Homo sapiens: one gene and its partner. The protein of the gene in region 2 purifies or fractionates together with the protein of the main gene of each other region. This does not show direct contact. Each region holds a gene or a part of one and is shown on either strand. Other genes may lie near its edges.

The links.
Region 1: the proteins of PSKH2 (region 2) and UNC119B purify together in Homo sapiens (affinity purification with mass spectrometry; 3 studies listed by BioGRID and IntAct, with this or other methods). This does not show direct contact.

The regions. Positions count from the first base shown.
Region 1 is NC_000012.12:120,709,304-120,720,469, reverse strand, and holds the start of UNC119B (protein unc-119 homolog B), read right to left. Parts: upstream 10,013-11,166; 5' UTR 9,996-10,012; coding exon 9,752-9,995; intron 7,197-9,751; coding exon 7,083-7,196; intron 3,843-7,082; coding exon 3,731-3,842; intron 3,601-3,730; coding exon 3,428-3,600; intron 551-3,427; coding exon 438-550; 3' UTR 1-437. UniProt on the Homo sapiens protein: Myristoyl-binding protein that acts as a cargo adapter: specifically binds the myristoyl moiety of a subset of N-terminally myristoylated proteins and is required for their localization.
Region 2 is NC_000008.11:86,064,361-86,076,303, forward strand, and holds the start of PSKH2 (serine/threonine-protein kinase H2), read right to left. Parts: upstream 5,263-11,943; coding exon 5,078-5,262; intron 4,558-5,077; coding exon of another isoform or gene 4,487-4,557; intron 272-4,486; coding exon 1-271.

The DNA of each region.
Region 1 (11,166 bases), on a different chromosome or scaffold from region 2:
AGCTACCTGGAAGAGGCCTACCTTTCAGCTTCCCACAGCACCCAGGAACCTTAAGAGCTGCTGACCTGCTGGTGGGCCTGGCCAGAGCCTTCTCACCAGGCACAGCTATGCCTGGTCGTCAAGACAACCAACAGGCAGCCAGAACTACGGAAAATAAACTTTTTTATCTGGATTCCAGGACCCTTATCCTAACCTTTTACTTTACTATAGTACCTCTGCAACCTACGGGGCAGGAAAAAAAGGGAAGAAAAAATACTGGGGAAGAAAACACAGCACTGTTTGGCAGCTCCTTTGGCGCGCAGGAAACTGCCACCCCAGCCTTGGCTTCCTGGGGCCAGGTTCCAGATGTGTGTTGACAAACTGCAGCTTCGATCATCTCCGTGTGCCAGGATCTTGTGGCCGCGGCAAAGCACCTCCCCTATCTACTCTTGCAGCACTTACTGGCCTCCATTATAGGCATAATCAGCCTTGTTGTGCATTATCAGCTTGTTGTCAACAAAGTAGAAGCTGTCAGAGCGGGTCTCGTAAGGATTTTCAATCATTAGACGAACTGCAAGTCAGGCAAAGGGGGAAGAAAAAAGCAAAGAATTATGTTTGAGTCTGCCCCACAGGGTAGGTGGGAGAAAACTTTGCATCCCCTCCAAAATAAGCCAGCGCTTCAGAGTATACTCTGCCAGAATAACGATGAGGTCAGAACAGAGGGAGGCAGCCCTTGACAGCTGGGGAGACCACAGAGGCCCCCCAGCTGAACATGATCTCCATTTCAACATAAGGATGCAATCAACTCTCCACCATGGCCTCCTCTGTCATCTCCAGCCTGGATTCTTCAGCCAAGATACCAGGGAAATGTGCTCACCCCTCTTCCCAACATGGACCCCACCAACCTATTTACTCAGTGCTCTCAGCTGACCAAAGCCAGCCCTGGCCTCTGGTCAGTGGCCCACCTCTAGACATTCCACTCCAAATTCAGAAATCTGAGCCTCACTGTGCCCACCTCCACACACAACCCTGACAACCCAAGGAAACCTAGATTGGAATGAGTGCAAGGAACACAGGGCAGGGAGCCTTCTCCGGAGACCTTCTGGGTATTAACTCGCAAATGATTCAGCAATAGGTCTGCCTGTCTTGGGATCTAAAGTAAAGTCTTGTTTGTTCAGGCAATTGCCCAGACCTCTTTAACCATACTGGAGAGTAAAGATAATTAACAGTCACTACCTCTGATCAGTTTTGAGTTAATGATTACATGCCATTTTGAGTCTTTAACCATACTGGAGAATAAAGATAATACTACCTCTGATCAGTTTTGAGTTAATGATTACATGCCATTTGGAGTCCCCTGGAGGAAATGCTGTTGCTCACCACAGTTCTCAAAAAGTGAAACTGATTTTTTAAAGTTCTTTGAACCCACCAATGCCAAAACTACTCGGTTTATATGCATAATATTGCCCTCCAGGCTGATTTGGCTTCATGGGTAAAACTTATAACACTATACATCATCTTTTCTTGCAAGTATCTACATATTCTAGCCAGCTTGGGAAGAGGGGTTCAAGTCAGAACCAGATGCTGTCGTCAACACCCTGCCCCACATCTCAGCAATCCTCATTTTACCTGGGAACTGTACTGCCACACGATTAAAGGTTATCTGGTTTTCAGAATATGACAATTCTTAAGGACCTGGGATTCTGAGAGGACCAATCAGTGATGCCAGCAAGGCAACTACAGGCATCACTAGTCACAGGATTCTATTCACACCCTCATAAATGACTTGAATTTTCCCTAACTATTCACAAAGGATGCGAACCTGAGGTGGCTAGGCCAAAGTTGCAGAAACTGACAAGGGCTGTTCTTTCTCTCTCGTTTGGTCCCCATCTTCCCTTGCCGAGGCTACACGGCAGCAGCCTTCTCCCTCTGGTGCCCTCCCCAGGTCTAGGCCACTCTTCCTCAAACAGTATTTCCACCTTCTCACTCCTGCCCCAAAATCTACAACAGCCCCATTCCTTCCTGCTGGATCTATCTCAACACTTTATCCAATCAACTCTCTATCCTGCAGGGAATGGAAAAGAAGTCCTCTGGCCTTGATTCTATTTAGCCTGCAGTTTCACATCTAGCTCTGATTAAGAAAAAAGTGAAGGGCCAATGACTAAAACACAATGGAAAACCATGACTAACAGTGCACAGGAGAGGTGCTTTATCTGATCAGCGTCCCAGGGATGGTCACAGGCCTCCTTTTATCTCCCTTAGGCACTGTCTTCCCACAGGAGGCATCTAAAAGGATGGCCTGTATTATTAAAACCTTCAGACCGGCCGGGCGCAGTGGCTCAAGCCTGTAATTCCAGCACTTTGGGAGGCCGAAGCAGGCGGATCACGAGGTCAGGAGATTGGGACTATCCTGGCTAACACGGTGAAACCCCGTCTCTACTAAAAATACAAAAAATTAGCCGGGCATGGTGGTGGGCACCTGTAGTCTCAGCTACTCAGGAGGCTGAGGCAGAATGGCATGAACCCAGGAGGCAGAGCTTGCAGTGAGCCGAGATTGCGCCACTGCACTCCAGCCTGGGTGACAAGATCAAGACTCCGTCTCAAAAAGAAAAAAAAAAAAAACCTTCAGACTGAGCACAGTGGCTCACGCCTGTAATCCCCAGTACTTTGGGAGGATGAGGCAGGTGGATCACAGGGTCAGGAGTTCGAGACCAGCCTGACCAACATGGTGAAACTCTGTCTCTACAAAAAATACAAAAAATTAGCCGGGCATGGTGGCAGGTGCCTATAATCCCAGCTACTCGAGAGGCTGAGGCAGGAGAATCACTTGAACCCAGGAGACGGAGGATGCACTGAGCCAAGACTGCGCCACTGCACTCCAGCCTGGGCAATAGGGCAAGACTCCGTCTCAAAAAAAAAAGAAAAAAACAAAAGGGCCGGGGGCAGTGGCTCACACCTGTAATCCCAGCATTGTGGGAGGCCGAGGAGAGTGGATCATGAGGTCAAGTGTTCGAGACCAGCCTGACCAACATGGTGAAATCCCGTCTCTACTGAAAATACAAAAACTAGCCAAGTGTGGTGTAATCCCAGCTACTCAGGAGGCTGAGGCAGGAGAATCGCTTGAACCTGGGAGGCAGAGGTTACAGTGAGCCGAGATCGCGCTGCTGCACTCCAGCCTGGGCAACAGACAGAGCAAGACTCTGTCTCAGGGGAAAAAAACAAAAACAAAAACAAACAAACCCTTCATTGCTCCCATACGGGCCGAGTCAGAGTTTAGAACAGGAGCCAGGAGCAATAGGAAATGAGAAGCCTGAGGTCAAATGACTAGATACGCATCATGTCAGCACTGCCACGAGACAATGCCAGGGCGCTGGACCAGATGGGTTTCAAGGTTTGTTCCTTGTAGCCCTCAGAATCTAGAGTGCTGTAAGGGTCAGGGGATACATACTGACATCCTCCGAAAGCTGGGGAAACTCATAGATATGTTCACAAGTGTTCCTACTGCTGGGGATGCAGAAGCCAAAATCAAAGTCAAAGTTTTTCAGCAAGTGTTCCCGGAAATAGTGCCGTTCGATCATCCGGAAGTTTGAAACAGGTTTGTCTCCCACTGTGAACTCCACCCTGGAAAATAAATCTCTGTAAGCCCGACTTTGCCTCCTCCCTCCTCTAAAGCCAACCCAAAACCCAACCGAAAACACTCTTCTCTGTGAACAAACAGAATGTTCTCCCCTCAGGTAGTAATGGTACTCACGTAGCCCCGACTGTCCGGAGGCGGAGAAATGCCGGTGTGAACTGATAGCGGACAAAACGTCCTGCGCTGATGTCCACGTCTCCACCTCCCTCCTCCTCATCCTCCTCCTGGTCTGAAAGAGCACACAGAATCTTCAGTGCACCATCTCGACATTCTCAATCCAAGAGTTCTATCACCAGTCCCAACAGCACAATGGCAACCAATCCCAGTAACCACACCAACAAGAAGAATGGCCAGTGTTTACTGCGCACTTGCTATATAGCAGGACACTTGCCATAGTCCAGACTCCTTACAACAACCCTTCGAGGTGTTACTGTCTCTATTTTACAGATCAGGAAGCTCAAGTTCAGAGAAGTCAGGTAACATGTCCAAAGTCCCTCAAACAGTAAGAGGAGGGAACAGGGATTTGAATCCAGGTCCATCTGACTCAAGGCCTGTTCTTCAACACTAAGCTATTAGCCTTTTTTAATAGTTTGAGAGCTTATGCCATATCCTAAGGGTGAAACCTGAAACACAAGCTGGGAACTGGGCCTCTGACATGGTCTATTCTATTCAGACTAGGTCTGCAGTTAACCAAGTTGAAGCGCTAGCACCAACCTAAAAGAATGAGGCTACAAAAGTTGACACTTATCAGAAAGTTATTTCAATGAATATAAAAATTTCTGACAGGCTGCAAAGATAAACCACTAAAAATAATTTTGTTATTTAAATAGAAGACATTGACCTACAGCCTTGGGATACTATAGTTCCTTGACTGATGTTTACTTCTAGGCCATACCAGGCCTAACCCTTTGACCACCTGGGAAAGGGTGAAGCAGATGTGGTGGCCTCTACAAGGTTAATGCTGGTCTCCGGTCTAGTCCATTCCTGAACCCAGGAGATGAAAGATTTGTAAAATGAATCAGAGGGCTGGGCACGGTGGCTCATGCCTGTAATCCCAGCACTTTTGGAGGCCGAGGTAGGCGGATCCCCTGAGGTCAGGAGTTCAAGACCAGCCTGACCAACATGGAGAAACCCTGTCTCTACTAAAAATACAAAATTAGCCCAGCGTGGTGGCGCATGCCTGTAATCCCAGCTACTCGGAAGGCTGAGGCAGGAGAATTGCTTGAACCCGGGAGGCGGAGGTTGTAGTGAGCCGAGATTGTGCCATTGCACTCCAGCCTGGGCAACAAGAGTGAAACTCCGTCTCAAAAAAAAAAAAAAAAAAAAAAAAAAAAAGAATCAGAGAACAAGCATTCTAATGTGAATAGGAGTTAGTACCCTCCAGTGTCCAGTGAGGATATTTTCTCCAGGTCTAAGCTGTACATGAGTACAACATAAGAGAAGACTTTTTCAGCATCAAACATCTCTGCTTTTGACAAGCCCAAGAGCGACTGGGCAACCAGGCTGAGTAGGGGTTCACCCCCAGAGACTCTAAAACCCTGGCTCCAACAATGTGACTCAGAGAGACAGCAAATCTTGGGGATTCAAATTCATCAGAACAAGTGCTGCAGAAAGGTAGTGATTCAGTGTGAGGATAATCTGTTGTTTATATTTATTGATTTATTTTGAGATAGGGTCTCACTCTGTCACCTTTGCTGGAGTGCAATGCAGTGATCACGGCTCACTGCAGCCTTGATCTCCCAGGCTCAAGCCATCCTTCCACCTCAGCCTCCTGAGTAGCTGGGACCACAGGCATGTGCCACCACGCCTGGCTAATTTTTTTGTATTTTTTGTACAGATGGGGTTTTGCCATGTTGCCCAGGCTGGTCTCAAACTCCTGGGGCTCAAGTGATCTGCCTGCCTCAGCCTCCCGAAGTGCTAGAATTACAGGTGTGATCCACCGCACCCAGCCTCAATGTGGGGAATATTACAAGTGAATCAAGATCCTTAAATGTAAAAACTAGAGAGACTGAAAACCAAGATACTTTACAGTATCTTCAGCTGACCTTCTTGAAACAGTTCCGTCTTATATTGAAATGACAACTCTTGAGTCTAATCCAAATCCACATACCTGTAGTAGGCCTGGAGTCCTTGCAATGTCCCAGGTACTGTGATATGTGGCTTAGAGATGAGAACACCACAGACCCAGGAAGCTAGCTGGTCTTGATCTGACCATCCCAATAAAAAACTACCCATAAGCAACCAGGCGCGGTGGCTCACGCTTGTAATCCCAGCACTTTGGGAGACCAAGGCAGGCGAATCAAAGGTCAGGCGTCTGACACCAGCCTGACCAACATGGTGAAATCCCGTCTCTATTAAAAATACAGAAATTAGCTAGGCATGGTGGTGGGCACCTGTAATCTCAGCTACTTGGGAGGCTGAGGCAGGAGAAGCTCTTGAACCCAGGAGGCAGAGGTTGCAGTGAGCCAAGATTGTGCCACTGCACGCCAGCCTGGGTGACAGACCAAGACTGTGTCTCAAAACAAACAACACAAAAAAAAAACCCACAAAACAACAACAACAAAATTACCCATGAACTTGAGCCTTTAGGTGCCTTGGTCAGTATGAGATTATGATAGCATAAATACCACCAGGTAGGGGTGAAATCGGGGCCTTATCAAATTTGCAGGCTCTAAGTAGCAAATCAGATGAGAAACACTGCAAAGTAAGTTTACAAACCACACTGATACTATGGGTATCTGTACCAGTGTTCTAACAAATGACTAACTCCAGGGGGCGCTAAACCTCCAGTGAGGTGCTCCAAAGGCTTCTGTGGTCCAGATCAGCCTGGCACTTTATCACAAGCACAGGAAGCGGCTATGGGAGGCTAATTTAAGGAACCCCAAGTAGTTGAGTTCCTGGGTCTGTTCTTCCAGAAAATGGTTGAGATTAAAATCCAAACTAGGTCTGGGAACTCCAAGGCAATATGTAAAAGAGAGCAAGAAGATGGCTCAAACTGCCTCATGTCTGGACCAGGATCCTCCCTATCACCCTCCAAGAGGGCACCAGGCTCAGGTGAGTTTTCCTCATTATAGTTTAATTTCAAGGATTCCTTTCCCAACTGGAGGCAACATGGTAAGATGAACCAGCACAGGGCCTTAGGAAAGAGCCGCCTGGGAATTGTAGGCCTCAGATCCTTCGCTGTAAAACAGAGATAACAGTAATTCCTCAAAGAGGTGTGAGGATTACATACACTGATGTGCACAAAGACGTGGAACACAGTGACCAGCACAGAATAGACATCCAACAAACATCAGCCTCTGAACGCAGCTTCAAACCACCATGCCTGGCAGACCAGGCCACGGGAAGAGGTCACAGAAGTGGGACACACTGGAGTCCAAGAAACAGGATGCAGTGGCACACAAAGATTTGAGTTTCAAAGACCTTTGGCTCAAAACTGTCTAGTGGTCACCACAACGTAGAGGCCTACCTGAAACGCAAGGTTTGGCAATCTCAAAAAGTACTGTCCCTGTCTCCAAATCTCGAATTTTGAAGCGGGTGAAATCAATACTGTAGATGTTGTCTTCGGGTTTACATAAATAATCTGAAAACAAGAGAGAGAAACCAACACTGTTAAATAATCCTCCAAAACTACCATTTATTTAATTCTCAAGTTTTGAAGCAAACTCAGATTTTTTCTTACACAACACACTTAAAATACTCCCAAAAACTTTCTCATGTGTTATCACCAGCAGAAGTTGTATGGACAGAATTAGGGGATCCAACAAAGAAAAAAAATAACAAGGACTTGCTTTGGATGAAAAATTGCAAAACTTTTAGAAACTAGGATAGAAAAGGTGGATTTCTTTGGAAACACATAAAAATCTTTCATCATCTATCAAGTTGGATGTCAGAACAGGGCGAACTTTTTATAGAATTCCAATCTAAGACATTTAAACTGACTTAGCAGATAATACAGTGCTAGTTTGCCAACGTTAGTTTGCCAACTGTCAGTGTAAGAAAGCCGAGATCAGCAAACTTTTCTGTAGAGCCAGATTCTAAATAATTTAGGCTTTGCCGCCACATGGTCTCTGTCACAACTACTCAACTCTATCATTGTAGCCACAAAAGCATCCACAGACAATACGCAAATGAATGAATGTGGCTATATTCCAGTAAAACTGTATTTATGGACACTGAAATATGAATTTTACATAACCACGTGTCTCAAGATTTTAAAGTTTTTTTCAACCATTTAAAAATGTACAAACCTAATCTTAGTTTGTGGGCTACACAAAATCATACAGTAGACAATACATATCATACATATCCAGGCAAGAGGATAAATCTGCCGGTGAAGACATTAGGCCCAAGTGACTAGAACATGAGCCGCAAATTGAAATAATTCTAATCACAGCAAATTTCACTGATTTCTTTCTAGGATGATTCCGGATAGCATCTTCTCCACAGCTCATTTTGATACTTGATCTTTTATTGCCTGAGTTAGTTGTTTTCGTGTTTTACAAGTTGTCTCTTTATTAAGACGACAAACTTGACAACTACTGATTATTCTGTAACTGCTAAAAAGGCTAACATTGGCTTTGGACTCTTAGAGGGTACTCAAATAATCTGCTGGATAGAATGAACGAGACGTTAAGAAGAGTAACAAAGAGGTTGCCAGACTCTAAGAAGCTGCAGAGGTGGGTTTGGACAATGAGCAACAATCCCAAGCCCCCAGATAGGATCTGAGTGCCCACTGAGAATCCTGCTTAGGGCCAGGCACAGAATACCCTAACTCACTTGGATGGCAGGAGAGGGCATGAGGTTACCAAGACCAGGTGCTGAGCATCTGTACTTTCAGAGCCCCAAATGAAAACTGGTTCAGAAGAAAAGAAGCTTTTTCACACTGTTTCAATAAAACTAACAAGAATGTCTAAAGATACGTTCAGGTCTGGTAAGGACAGTCTCAACCCAAACAGTATTGGGAAACGGGGGCATCCAAATATCTAGAATCAAATTAAAACTCTTTTAGGAAATGGGAATTCCCTTTCGCACAGGGTGGACCAAGGCCTACTCCCCCCAAATTTCCATCCCCAAATTACTAGAGCTGCAATCGGCAACCTGAGGTGCACCTGAACAGCCCTGGGCTGCCTGCTATAGCAGCTCAGCAGACACCATGGCAGCCTTCGATCCATCCAGGGAATGTTGCTGCTGCCACAGGGTTAGGAGACTGCACGCCAGGAGTGATGGGCAGGCCAAGATAGGCCTAACTAGGTGAGTGCACACTCCTGCAGGGAAAACAGCAGCAAGAGAAAAGACGTCAAGTCAGGGACTGGCTTGGCAGAGAACAGAAAAAGGGAGATCACCCAGGGCAGGGACTGGGCAACATTTTTCTTCCCACCCATCCTCCTATCAACGAAAAAGCTTAGGATGGTTGCCTTTTGTGCAGGAAACGCATTTCTGAAACTCTGAAATCATTCTTAATTCACGAGAATGTCAAAAGCAGGATTCACATGTCGGAGTCTGTACACAAACTGAAACTTTATTTTTGTTTTAATGTGGCACAGTTTTAAATGAGCAGGAAATGCCACGGCTATGTGTTTTGAGGAAGAACCCATCTGCACACTAAGGGGCAACGCTCCCGACCCAAAGAGGGAGGGAGGCCGGGCAGGCTGCAATGGGGGAGGGCTGCCATGGGGCCAGGGCGGAGGAAGCAGGTAAGGCTTCTGGCCTGCCAGAGGGCTGGGGGAGCCTGGCTGAGCGGGAACTTCACTGATGGCCGGGGGTTCCAGGCTGAGGGCCCAGGGGCCCATTTATTAGGGGACCTCGGCCCCCGGCCGGCTCAGGAGGATCCAGTTCAGCTGAACGGGGCCCTCTACCCAAACAGGTCCGGCAGAGCTGGGGAGCCGACCGGCCGAAGGGCATCCTAGCGTGGCCGGACTCACAGGAATGCGGTCCAGCCCAGGAGAGTCCTTCCCCACCAGAGCTACGTGAGCGTGGCGGGAGCAAAGCCCGGCCGGCGGGGCAGCGGGAAGCGCGGCCCGGCCGGCCGAGGGGGTCTGGCGGGGACCCCCGCGCTGGTCAAGTGGCCGGGTCCGCTGAAGGCTCCGGGAGCCGGGGCACGGCGCGAGGGGAGGGCGCGGCCCGCGCGGCACTCACTCTCGGTGACCCGGCTGAGGCGCAGGACGTGCTCGGGCCGGATGGTGTCCAGCGCCAGCAGCTCCTGCTCCGTGACCGCTGCCCCGACGCCGTCGTCGGCCGCGTGGTGGGGCGCCTGCCGCCGCGCCTTCAGGCGGTTCAGGACGCCGCCGCCCGCCTTCTTCTTCTCCTCCTTGCCAGCCACCAGCCCCCCGGGCCCAGCCGCCGACGCCGCGGCCGCAGCCTTCGGGTTAGACCCGCTCATCGCTCCGCCGCCAAGATGGCCGCCGCCTCCACAGCGCGGTAACTATGGAGAGCGGGGGCGGGGCCCGGGGCCCGGCGGGGAAGGGGCGGGGAGGGGGCGGGGCGGGGGCGGGGGCGGGCGCCCGGGGGGCTGTGGAATTCCCTTTCGCACAGGGTGGACCAAGGCCCACTCTCCCCAAACTTCCATCCCCAAATAACTAGAGCTGCCATCAGCAACCTGAGGTGCACATGAGCAGCCCTGGGCTGACTCCTATAGCAATTCAGCGGACGACACCATGGCAGCCTTCGATCCATTCAGGGAATGCTGCTGCTGCCACAGGGTTAGGAGACCGCAGGCCAGGAGTGATGGGCAGGCCAAGATAGGCCTAACTGGGTGACTGCACACTCCTGCGGGGCCCGGGGGGCGGTGCTTCGGCTACTGCCCCAACTTTGGTCCTGCCAGGTGGAGGGCCTAGGGGTGGCTGGAGCTTCAGCAACCCCACTCCCCATCAGACCCCCAAGATCCTCCACGATGTTTAAATACATATCTTACGGTCAAATGAATTTACGTCATATAAACTTTCCTCCTCCTCATCCTCCTCCTGGTCTGAAAGAGCACACAGAATCTTCCGTGCACCATCTCGGCATTCTCAATCCAAGAGTTCTGTCACCAGTCCCAACAGCACAATGGCAACTAATTCCCAGTAATCACACCAAGAAGAAGAATGGCCAGTGTTTACTGCGCACTTGCTATATGGCAGGACACTTGCTATAGGGCAGGCTCCTCACCTCACAACAACCCTGTGAGGTATTACTGTCTCCATTTTACAGATCAGGAAGCTCAAGTTCAGAGAAGTCAGGTAACATGTCCAAAGTCCCTCAAGCAGTAAGAGGAGGGAACAGGGATTTTAATCCAGGTCCATCTGACCCAAGGCCTGTTCTTCAACACTAAGCTATTAGTGGACAATGCATCTTGAGAAAATGTTTATTAATATATTTAGCATAGAAGGTAAGTTAAAGCAGTGTTTGTTTTGCAAAGGCAGTTTCAAGACAAACTTTCCAATGAGATTGCCATCCGTAAGCCCTACTGTGCCAGGCCCTGGGCTAGACATTGGGCTAGGCTACAGGAGATGTAAGAGTGAGGGCAGGGATTGGGTCTGCCTCACCCCTGAATTCCCAGCAGTTCAGCTAAT
Region 2 (11,943 bases):
CTGAGCAATGAGTCGATCAAAGAGCTCCCCTCCGGTAGCCAGCTCCATTACCATGTAAACTTGATCCTCAGTCTCAAAGATCTCCATGAGCTGGACAATGTAACGATGGCTAACCCGCCGCAGGACGCTCAGCTCAGACACGCACGCTTCTCTACCTTCCCTCTCTCTGGTTTCCATCACTTTTATTGCAAAAGGTTTCTTGGTGGTCTTCTGCTCTACCCTGACAACCCTGCTGAAACTGCCTGTCCCAATAAGAGCTTTGATGTCATATCTGTTGGGAAGAAAAACCAAACATGTTATCCCCAGAAGTGATGATTCTCAAAATTATTTAAGTCCATGCTTTATATCATCTTTTCTATCCTTCTATTCCTCCCATCAGATTTATTTGTTTATTATTACTTGTGTTTATTATTTTTTGAAAGGTACCCCAAATCCTGTTTTGAAATGGAGGAAAACGATATAAAGGTAATTTGTTGGTAGAAAGACAATCTTAATACAATAACTACCATTTATTATACAGTTATTATATGCCAACAATTTTTAAAAATCTTATCCCTACTAAAACCCTGCTGGGTAATATAATAATATCCCCCTTTTTCAAATAAGGAAATTCAGACTTAAAAAGAAGTTAAATGAGTTATCAAGGGCACCCAGATTGTGGTTGGAATGGATGGGATTCAAATCCAGCCCTTTCAAATGCATTTCACAAAAACTGTTTCAAGAATGTTAAGACCCCCCTCTACCAATTTCTTTCCTTCCTCTAGCCCTTGTTTTTGTCATTCTTCAACAACAAACAAATCAAGTGGGGGAGAATAAAGTAGAAGCTTACTCCTGTTTATAATTTCTCAAAGGCTGAGGATCCCATATCAGAAGACAGAGAATAAACAGTATGTTTCTTTGGGTTGCTTGACTGTGAGCTCAGCCCCAGGCTCATCTTGTACACAGTAGCTGTTAATAAGGAAGAAGTAAATGCAGCTGTGCTATTATAAGAGCCGGTTTCAGCAGTCTGGTGGGAGTAGTGTTAGGGCCACCTTGCAGCCAGTAGCTTCTCACAGTCTCCCTCCATCCCCATACCCACACTTGGAATTTCTCGGCAGTAAAGAGAATTTTAACATGGAATGTATGTCAATAATTTGTAAACCAATTATCCCACAAAAAGGCCAAGAACATATGTTTACCTACGTAACAAACCTGCACATCCTGCACATGTACCCCTGAACTTAAAATAAAAGTTGAAGAAAAAAAGGCCAGGATATCAGCTCAGATTTCAAATGCTAGGGATCTTAAGCTTTAATTATCTGTGTAAACGTCTATTAAAATTTAAGAATCTGGCCAGGCACGGTGGGCTCATCGTGTAATCCCAGCACTTTGGGAGGCCGAGGTGGGAAGACTGTTTGAGCCTAGGAGTTTGAGAGCAGCCTGAGCAAAAAACTGAGACCCCTTCTCTATAACAAATTTAAAAATTAGCCAATCATGATGCACAGCTGTAGCCCCGGCTACTGAGGGGACTGAAGCAGGAGGATCCCTCGAGCCCAGGAATTTGAGGTTGCAGTGAGCTGTGATCAGACCACTGCACTCCAGCTTGGGTGAGAGAGCGAGACCTCTGTCTCAAAAATTAAAAAAATAAAATAAAATAGAATCCTATCAAATTTAACCCTCTACCTCATATTTAAGACATGTTGAGAAAATGCTAGACTTAAAATCACGATTGTATAGCTGGAAAGAATATTAAAGTTGGGTATTTAACCCAACTTCTTGTTTTACTGATGAGGAAATTTGAAGACCACATTAGCCAATTGGTTGTTTACGTTGTAGAGTCAGGATTAGAACGCAGGTCTCCTTTTTTTTTTTTTTTTTGAGATGGAGTTTTGCTCTGTCACCCAGGCTGGAGTACAGTGGCATGATCTTGGCTGACTGCAACCTCTGCCTCCCGGGTTCAAGAGATTCTCCTGCCTCAGCCTCCTGAGTAGCTGAGATTACAGGTGCACACCACCATGCCTGGCTAATTTTTGTATTTTTTTTAGTAGAGACGGGATTTCACCATGTTTGCCAGGCTGGTCTTGAACTCCTGACCTGAAGTGATCTGCCCACCTCAGCCTCCCAAAGTGTTGGGATTACAGGTATGAGCCACTGTGCCTGGACTTCATTTTAATAAAACCTCTCCTAGCTAAGGATGACAGAGAATGGAATGTACTCAGGGAGTACCCAGGGAGAAGGCACGTTTTTATATCACATATTCAATACCAAAGATTCAAATGCAAATACTAAACTATGCTTTAAATAGTCTTACTTCTTTTATTGAGCTTATTTTTCCTGTAACTTTTTTTTTTGCCTTCTTGTTTGTTCTTTATATTCCTGTGTGTATTGAATAAAAATGACATTTGGCTGTACCAGATTACAGAAAACAGCTTTGTTCTCCACAGAGCATTTAATTTTCTGGCCAATTACCTTATCAAAACAGATAGCAATTTAGTAATCTTAAATAGATTCTTTCCCCTTTTCCCTTTCCAACTCTGCTTTTCTATTCACATGCATTCTCAGTGTGATTTTGAAGATAATCACAGGCATTTCAAATTCTATTGCTTTGCAGACCAACCAAGTTTTATATTACCTCTATTGTGGATGAAAGCACTTTGTAAATGCTAATTTATCGCTATGCCCTCAAAGCTGCCATCAAACTCATTTGTTCACAGAATTAATCATATCAAACAAACTACCATTTCTGAGAACTACACGCTTTTGCTCAAATAAAAGAAGCTTTATTCAATACTGTTAAGGGGGCTTCATATTTCCAATATTTGAAAAAATGCTAGTAATTTGGCATTGGAGGAAACAGTACACTTGAAGCCAAGATTTAGAGTGGTGGAAATAAATGCCTCAGATTGTTATTCAATTTGTCCCATAACAAATTCTTATAGCTACAGCCTTGCTCGTGAGTCCTCAACTGCCATGAATGGTGACCAACTTTATGATTTGCGTGGCTATACCTTGTAAAGTGCCTAGCACAGAGGAGTAGCAATAAACACTGAACAAAAGAATCATTCACTGAATACATATTATTCCTGAATCATCATATATATTTTGCAAACATTAAGTAAAGATCACATCAAGCTGGGAAGAATGCCTTTATAAGGTCTTTTCATTTCCTTCACTTTTACCCCTCCACTCTCTTAAAGAGTAGCCTCAGAGTCAGTTTAGTAGGTTGGACAATTTTGTATCATCCCAGAGACTACGTAAATTGGAAATATTACTTTAACCTCAGCTGCTATGATACAAACTGGGAATTTTTGAACATAGATTAAAGATTTGAAACAAGGAAATAATAATAGTGTTACAATCTGCTTGAGAGAAACAATTATAATAAACTCCCAACAAGAAAGTAAATATACTCATATCTAAATTCTATCATCTCTTTTCTGCAAAAGTTATAGATGGAATCACAACGGAGAAGGAAGACGACTGTGTTCTAGTCCCAATTCTACCACTAACTTGGACAAGTCACTTAACCTTTGGGGACACAACTACTCATTGGTTAAAGATGAGCCTTGAGTTAAAATCTCTGAAGCCCTTATAATGTTGAGATCCTCTACTTCTGTGATGCCTTTACACTCTATGGGGCTGGGTCTACCCCTGGATTGGGAATTAGTAGGGTGGATGAAAACTAGACCAGACTAGCATCATCTCTCTGACTACAAATGACCAGAGATGCCATTTAACCAATTCAGTCTTGACAAGACCCTGTACCTACTCAGATTCAGTTCAGTCATATTAGCCAGCCTTGTTCTTCTGTAAGCTTAGCAGCCACCGAACTAATCCTCCAGGAGTCACTGTACTAAAAGTTCTCAAGGAGGCCAGGAAATGGCTCTGCATAGATTCTGGACAGAGCACTGTGACGAAGTGAGCATGCAATTCTAGGACCAGCAGTGCCTTGGGAAGCCAGCTGAGCCACCCATTATTGTGTCTCCCCAAACACACAGAGGAGAAGGGGATTCCGTGATTTACTTGGTCAAAATGTCCAACATGTCCAACATGGTACACTCAGGAGGCCAACCAACCTGAAATCTTCTACATAGGAAGGGCTTATTTGTACTTCATGAAAACAATAATCAGCATTGCACTAATGTCTGCATGAGGACTGGTACCATGCACTGTGCAGCATAATTTACATGTATTACTTTAATTATGCTCACAACAGTCTTATGAGATAGATACTCCCATTTTACAGAGCTAGAAACGAAGGAAGGAAAAAAGCTAAGGAATGTTCTACATGGTACATGATAGAAGATATGGAACTGGACCTCAAGTCTGGCTGACTCAAAGGCGCATCTCTAGTTCACTCGCTGTAATCCCAATTTTTAGAATTAGTGGAAGATCCTTCACACACCAGGTCTGGCAGGACCCAGCCCCAGGATATTAGAGGCAAAGCCGTCTTCCACCGCAGATGCTGGAGGTTGGCAGACAGTCCTCTCACACCCCCACCCCCCACCTCCGAAGATAGGAATTCCTTCCCTTGTTTGCTGCTGCTCCTGCTCTCTTTTTTCCCATCCTCTGAACTCCCTGTTCAGAGATGTCAAAGAGAAATTGTACTGGGCACTTATGGAACACAGCAAGGAAGGCTTATCCCAGACTATTGCAATAGGAGTCGAGGCTTCTGCAACAGGGGAAAGAAAATGGACGCCTTCGAAACAAAAGGCAAGAAAGTTTTTAAGCGCTGGGGTGAGCCAGTGGAAAAGAATGGGAGAAGCTTAGGGAGAGGTGGTCAATGAGATCTGTGTTTGCTACCTGGCCCTTATGGAAGTTAGGCTCCTGCCCTCCCACAGAGACTGGGAGACAGTGGCCCTAACTCTCTTGATGACTACATTTCAAAGGGATGGCTGCCAGGTGCCTGAAAAAGACACTCTTGGGTTGTAGAAGATTTACATCTCAAAAGGGCAGAGAAAGGGGGAGATCAGTGCCTATCATCCGAAAGAACCCTGTCCAAAATTGAGTCAAGCTGAAGGGAACCTCGAGGCGGTCTTGGCCAGGGGTTTTTCTTTGTCAGCCCAGTCCCAGGCCAGTTCCTCACGTGGCGCTTTACCTGGCAAGGACCCGGGGGTCGAACTTGGCTCGGAAGCGAGCCACCTGTATCCTCTGCGCCGCCTGGGCCGCCGCCTCGGGCCCAGGCCCCGCGCCTCCGACGCCGGCTTGGTTTTGACCTTCGTGCTTGGCCCAAGCCAGCGCTGGTGGCCCCGGGACCACCTTCCTGCTGGCGCCGCACCCCATACCCGCAACACGCCCGCCGCTCGCGGGACCTGGGGACTCGGGAAGCAGCCAGCCCCGTTCCTCCGCCCTTTATCAAAGAGCAGCTGCGAGGGGCGGGACCCTCGGAAAGAAACCCCACTGGGGGGTCGTGGTCAGGGAGACAGCCCCCAGGATACCCGCTAACGACCGAGACGCCTGGATCATCGCTGGTCACCGTCTGTGTGTGTAATCTGACGTGATGAAAGCAAAGTCAACCAACAGGCAGAACCTGCGCCTAATTGTCTGGGCTTCACTTTCTGCATCTCTAACCTGACAAAGTGAACATATAAAATTATACGATTGTATAAAGGATATCGTCCCTCTAAAGAACTTTTCGCTGAGCTCATATTCGGATGACATGAACATTAAACATACATATATATATATATTTAAAATTCTAAGAGCTTATAATATTTAAAGTATAACTTCACTGCCTTCTATTGCATTAAACGGATGACAAAGGCCTGTGTCTGGCACTCATGACCTTCATCTTCCGGGTAATCCATCTAAGAGAGAAAAACTGAGGGCCACGATAGATGTCTAGAACCCAGACGAACACCCTAAGCAAATACAGTGAGAAAACCTGTATATACATATACAGTGTATATACAAAACCCGTATATACAAATATAGTGAGAAAACCTGTATATAGATATAAATATATATAAATAAATATAAATATTATGTATGGTAACTTTACATTTTCTATATATTTCATTCTTGTATTATTTATACATATTATACATGTATGTGAATGTGTGTATATATATTATACACACACAGTATTATAATACTTATAAATATTTATCATTTTGATAAATGTATATTGATTATATCACTATATTGATTAGATTTCATTGATATTTGTCAATTATATTCATTCACACACACACACACACACACACACACACACACAAATGATGTGTGGGAAATGAAATCCAGTCACGACCAAGCAAGTCAAGATCACATGCCTCCCAAGTTGTAGAACCGGAACTGGAGGCTGCTTCCCGATTTCCAGGCCAATGCTACTTCAATTTGTGTAATTTCCTTTCTAATTTCATTTAATTTGTAGTTTGGCTTAACAGGGAATGTCTGTGATGAATAAATTAGTCATGAACTTTCCCAGAGCTATATTTTGATGGAAAATTTAAAATACGGCTTGCATATAGCTGAGGGAAAATTAGTTCATCCTGCAAAGAGAGCATAACTACCAAATAATGGACTTTTCTTCCTAAAGAACCCTCAGAATTCTCCAACTACTAAGAAACAAGGAAAGAAGGTTTATTTTAAGCAGGTAAACAACTCGTTCTTATATGTCTCGAGCTTTTGAACTAATTTGCAGAATAGGCTATCTATTAGGTTAGAGCAAAAGTAATTGTGTCTTTGCCATTAAAAGTAAAGGCAAGGCCGGGCATAGTGGCTCACACCTGTAATCCCAGCACTTTGGGAGGCCAAGGCATGTGGATCACCTGAGGTCAGGAGTTCCAGACCACTGTGGCCAACATGGTGAAACCCCATCTCTACTAAAAATACAAACATTAGATGGGCCTGGGGGTGCGTGCCTGTAGTCTCAGCTACTCAGGAGGCTGAAGCAGGAGAATTGTTTGAACCTGGGAGGTGAAGGTTGCAGTGAGCTGAGATCGCGCCACCACTGCACTCCAGCCTGGGTGACAGAGCAAGAGTTCATCTCAAAAGGCAAAAGCTGCAATTACTTTTGCACCAACCTAACAGTATAAACAGAATGGAAGAGAGAAATAAAGGGAACAAACTGAAGTCAGATGTTAAGGTACTACTCAAAAAAACACAAAATTTTTTCCTCAGAGAGCCTGTTGTAAGGATTGTTTGCATAAGGATCGCACAGCAAATAGGAAGCATCTGCTATAAAACCTAAACCTGGGCAGCAGTGAAGGCGCCAGACACTTCCACGAGGCAGGCAGTCCCTCTGCCTGTCCACCTTCTCCCAGCAGTGAGGGCCTTCATAGTAGGCTGCAGAAACCTCTTCTGTCCTGTCTGCAGCTGGCCGCACAGCAGAGAAAGCTTTGTCACAAGCCTCCCACTAAGTCTAAACCATGTTCCTTGAAAATTGGAAAACACAGTCGCTGATTTTAAAGCCCTTAAAAAATGAAAACATTGATGAAACCACTGATTAGTTCTCTTTTGGAAAGCCCCAACTATTAACTAGAAGTGTTGTTGATGTAAATACTTTGCCTGGAGACAAAATTTAAGTACCTGTGCATTTGAAACTTTCACTTTCAAGGACTTCCACTAAGCTCTGAAATGTTAAAATGGTCATAAGTATATCCTTTTAATATGACTAATCTCAGAAAGAATAATTCATAAAGTAACATATAGAAAAATATCCAAATACATAGACTCTCCTGCATGTATTTCTCTTTATTGTGTATAATTGCTTGATTATATGGAGACCACTCAAGCATTGTTTGGGACCATTTGCTATTCACCCATTAATTAACTATTCATAGTTATTTCAATTATATATTTAACTTAATTAAAGTAATAAAATGTTAAAATAGCTCTAGACTTAAGGCCAGCTTTAAATGAAGCTTTATTTTTATATCAATGTGTTTAGTGCTTTTAAGTGGCTACCTGTGACACTTAAAGCAACTGAATAAATGGAAATGGTTCTGTGACATGGTATTTATTATAAAAAGTAATTAGATTGGACCTCCTTCTTAATAAAAAAAAATCGTATTTCAACTGCCATTTATTGCCCAAAAGTCACAAATTCTTACTAGTCAACTGTAACATTCATAATAATGTGTAATACATAGCTCCCATCACCTGATACCAGATTCTACTCTACACGAAGTTTTTAAAGAGAAGAATTAGAAGGACACAAAGAATTAAATCCAGAATGTGTCCTGGACTATCGAGATTCTGAAACTATAGAAACTTCCTAGAATAACTTTCTGACTTACATTTCATACAGTGATTTAATTAAGTGGCTTGGTTTATGACAGATATTCTTCACAAAGTATAATCCAACCCCTAAAGAGTATTTCACTGTAAGGATTTAAGGAACTATGCCAAATCAAAAAATCATTGCAGATTTAGACTAACATTTAGGGAAAACACACTTCTTTCTTTCATGAACAATATTGGTGGAAAATATGGAAAAGAATACAATCGTGATATTCTGTCATCAGTTTTTATTATACTCCAGCAACATGAAGAGTACAAAACAAGTAACTACGGATACCCTAAGGAGTGATATACCAGGAAGCCCTACAATATTATACCCTCCTTTACCTTACAGCTAAAAAGATAGAACCTTCATTTTTAACAGGTAAAATGAAGAATTTGTTTCACTTATTAGTTCTGCTTGAAATAGCTTCAATGTTGTTGCTTTTCAAGTTTTAGTTCTCTTTAGATCCCCCCCTACAGGGATTAATTTTCTCTAAAGTGATCTCCTGCCTCAAACATCAGTTTGAAGGTATACATCTTATCAGCTTCCTTTTCCCCAAGGTGTAGGGTCTGTGTTTGTCATGACAACTGGCATGGGGCTCTTTTAAGCCAATTTCACATACACCATGACGTGTGAAACCAACAATGCAAAGCTACTCTCACAGTTTTCTTCCCATAAACAAATAATAATGAGCTTCTAAGTAGGATGTCTTTGTGTGAAACTCAGAGATGGTGGGCACTTTCCTGCCACCCTGCCAAACTATTTTGCACTATCACAACACCTTACAAAAATAGGACTGTAATAATCCAGGCAAGTCAGTAATAATTTTTGAATTACTGAGAATATTTTTCTGTCACTACACTAATGAATAATTCATGTTAACTTGCATATCTTTATATTTAGCACCAAAGAAAGAATATTTAGCTTTAGTAGAATTTCAAGTTTTATGTTTTGTCTTGTAACTATAAAAAAGAAAATAAAAATTAGTATATAGTAATAAGTGATAGAAAAAATCTCTGCTGTCCAGTAAAAACATAAATTTCATTTTGTTATTGTAGTGACTTAAAGAAATCTCCAGGCACAACAGGAAATGAAGTTTTCTTATTTTGATGCACAAATTTAAAAAGATAAAGTGATAGGGTATTTCACTGTATTTTTGCTGATTTGCCTAAAGGATTTCTGCCTTTTCAAGTTGGCAATTTGCACCCAAAGCTTTCAAAAACGATGGCTAGAAATATGTTTAGTTGCATGGTAAAATAGTTACAATATGTTGCAAGGTAAAAAAAAAAAAAAAAAAAGCCTACATGGCATGATCTCATTTTTAAAATCACAGATAAAATAAGTTCCTATGGTGAGGAATGGAGGCCTCCAGCTGACAGAGAGCAAAGAACTGAGGCCTGCGACAACTATAGGCGTGATCCTGGGAACCGATTCTCAACCTCATCTGAGCCTTGAGACGACTGCTGCTCTGGCCGACAGCCTGACGGCAACCTCCTGAGACAGCTCTGAGAGGAGATTTTCCAGGTTCAAGTCCCGGTACACCACTTACCAGTTCTGTGACCTTAGGAAAGATATTTAACCTCTCTGTCTTCTCAGTTTTCTTATCTGTGAAATTGAAATAATAATAACACAAATGTTATAGGGTTGCTGGGAATCATTTAATTCTTTTACTTTTTATTTGTTATTTTTTACAGACTAGGTCTCTTTCTGTCAGCCAGGCTGGAGTGCAATGATATGATCACAGCTCACCACAGCCTGATCACAGCTCACCACAGCCTTGACCTCTGGGTTCAGGGCTCAAGCAATTCGCCCACCTCAGCCTCCTGAGTACCTGGGACTACAAGTGCACACCTCTACACCTAGCTAATTTTTTTTTTTTTTTGTACAGACAATGTCTTGCTATGTTGCCCAGGCTGGAAATAATTTAATTCATGTGAAGCACTTACATCAGCACCTGGAATATTATAAATGCTCATAAATATTATCTTGTATAAGTGAATGGTCCTAGGTGTGGTGGCTCACACCTGTAATCCCAACACTTTAGGAGGCTGAGACAGGCGGATCAGTTGATACTAAGAGTTTGAGACCAGACTAAGCATATAGTGAGACTCTGTCTACACAAAAAATTATCCTGGCATGGTGGTGTGCACCTGTAGTCACAGCTTAAGCAGGAGGATCCCTCGAACCCAGGAATTTGAGGTAGCAGTGAGCTACGGATCACACCACTTCAGTCCAGCCTGGATGACACAGCAAGACCCTGTCTCAATAATAAATAAATAAATGGCTTCAAGGGGTTGCATTAGTTATCTATTGCTGCATAACAAATTTCCCCAAAATTTTACAGTTTTAAAACAACAAGCATTTATTTTCTGAAGATTGAGTATATGAGAGGGTAGATCTGGCTCAGGATTTGAGGAGGAAGGTTGCGGCCAAGCTGTCTGATGAGGCTACAGTCATCACAAGCCTTGACAGGAACTGAATCCCCTTCCAAGTGCATGCACGTGACTGTCAGCAGGCCTCAGTTCCCAGCTGGCTGTTGGCAGAAGGCCTCCACTCCGCACCACGTGGGTTTCTCCATAGGCTGCCTGAGTGTCCTTGCAGCATGGCAGCTGGCATCCCCCATAGCCAGTGAGGAGTGTGAGTGTGCCTGAGCAGATGAGCAGGAGAAAACACAAACAGAAGCTTCGGTCTCTCATAACTCAATCTCAGAAGTGGCATGCCATCACTTTTGCCACATGTTGTTAGTCATGCAGAGCAACTCTTGTCAATGTGGGAGGAAACTCCGCAGGGATGTGGCTACCAGGAGGTGGGGATTTGGAGAAGCCATCATGGAGGCTGGCTTCTACTGTCATGGAACTGGGACTGATGAGTGAAATTTCACTACAAAGAGAATTCTTTTTTTTTGAGACAGGATCATACTACGTTGGTCAGGCTAGTCTCCAATTCCTGGGCTCAAGTGATCCTCCTGCCTCAGCCTCCCAAATTGCTGGGATTATAGGTGTGAGCCACCGCACCCAAAGGGGAATTTTGAAAGTCAAAGATAAATCTAGAGATGAACACTATGCTTAGGAAATTGCAGGCTGTCGATCACCAGAGCTGTTTAAGCAGCCTGGGCACCCCTTGGCCTTGCTGAGGAAAAGGATACTCAAGCACAAGAGTGATTGGACTTGAATCTTCAGATCCCTTCCAAGTCTGGGCTTCTGTGACTTTTTCTTTCATGTGGTCAATTCTAATCATAACTAGGTAGTAAACCTCTTGAAAACCTAACTCTTTGTGTCCAGCCTAGTATTCTAAACAAAGAATGATCTCTATAAATTTTTTTATTATACTTTAAGTTCTGGGGTACATGAACAGAATGTGCAGTTTGTTACATAGGTATATACATGCCATGGTGGTTTGCTGCACCCATCAACCCATCACCTACGTTAGGTATTTCTCCTAATGTTTTCCCACTCCTAGCCTTCCAACCCATGACAGGTCCCAGTTTGTGATGTTCCCCTCCCTGTGCCCATATGTTTTCATTGTCCAACTCCCACTTATGAGTGAGAACATGTGCTGTTTGGTTTTCTGTTCCTGTGTTAGTTTGCTGAAAATGATGGTTTCCACTTTCACCCATGTCCCTGCAAGGGACATGAACTCATCCTTTTTTCTGGCAGCATAGTATTCCATGGTGTATATGTGCCACATTTTCTTTATCCAGTCTATTATTGATGGACATTTGGGTTGGTTCCAAGTCT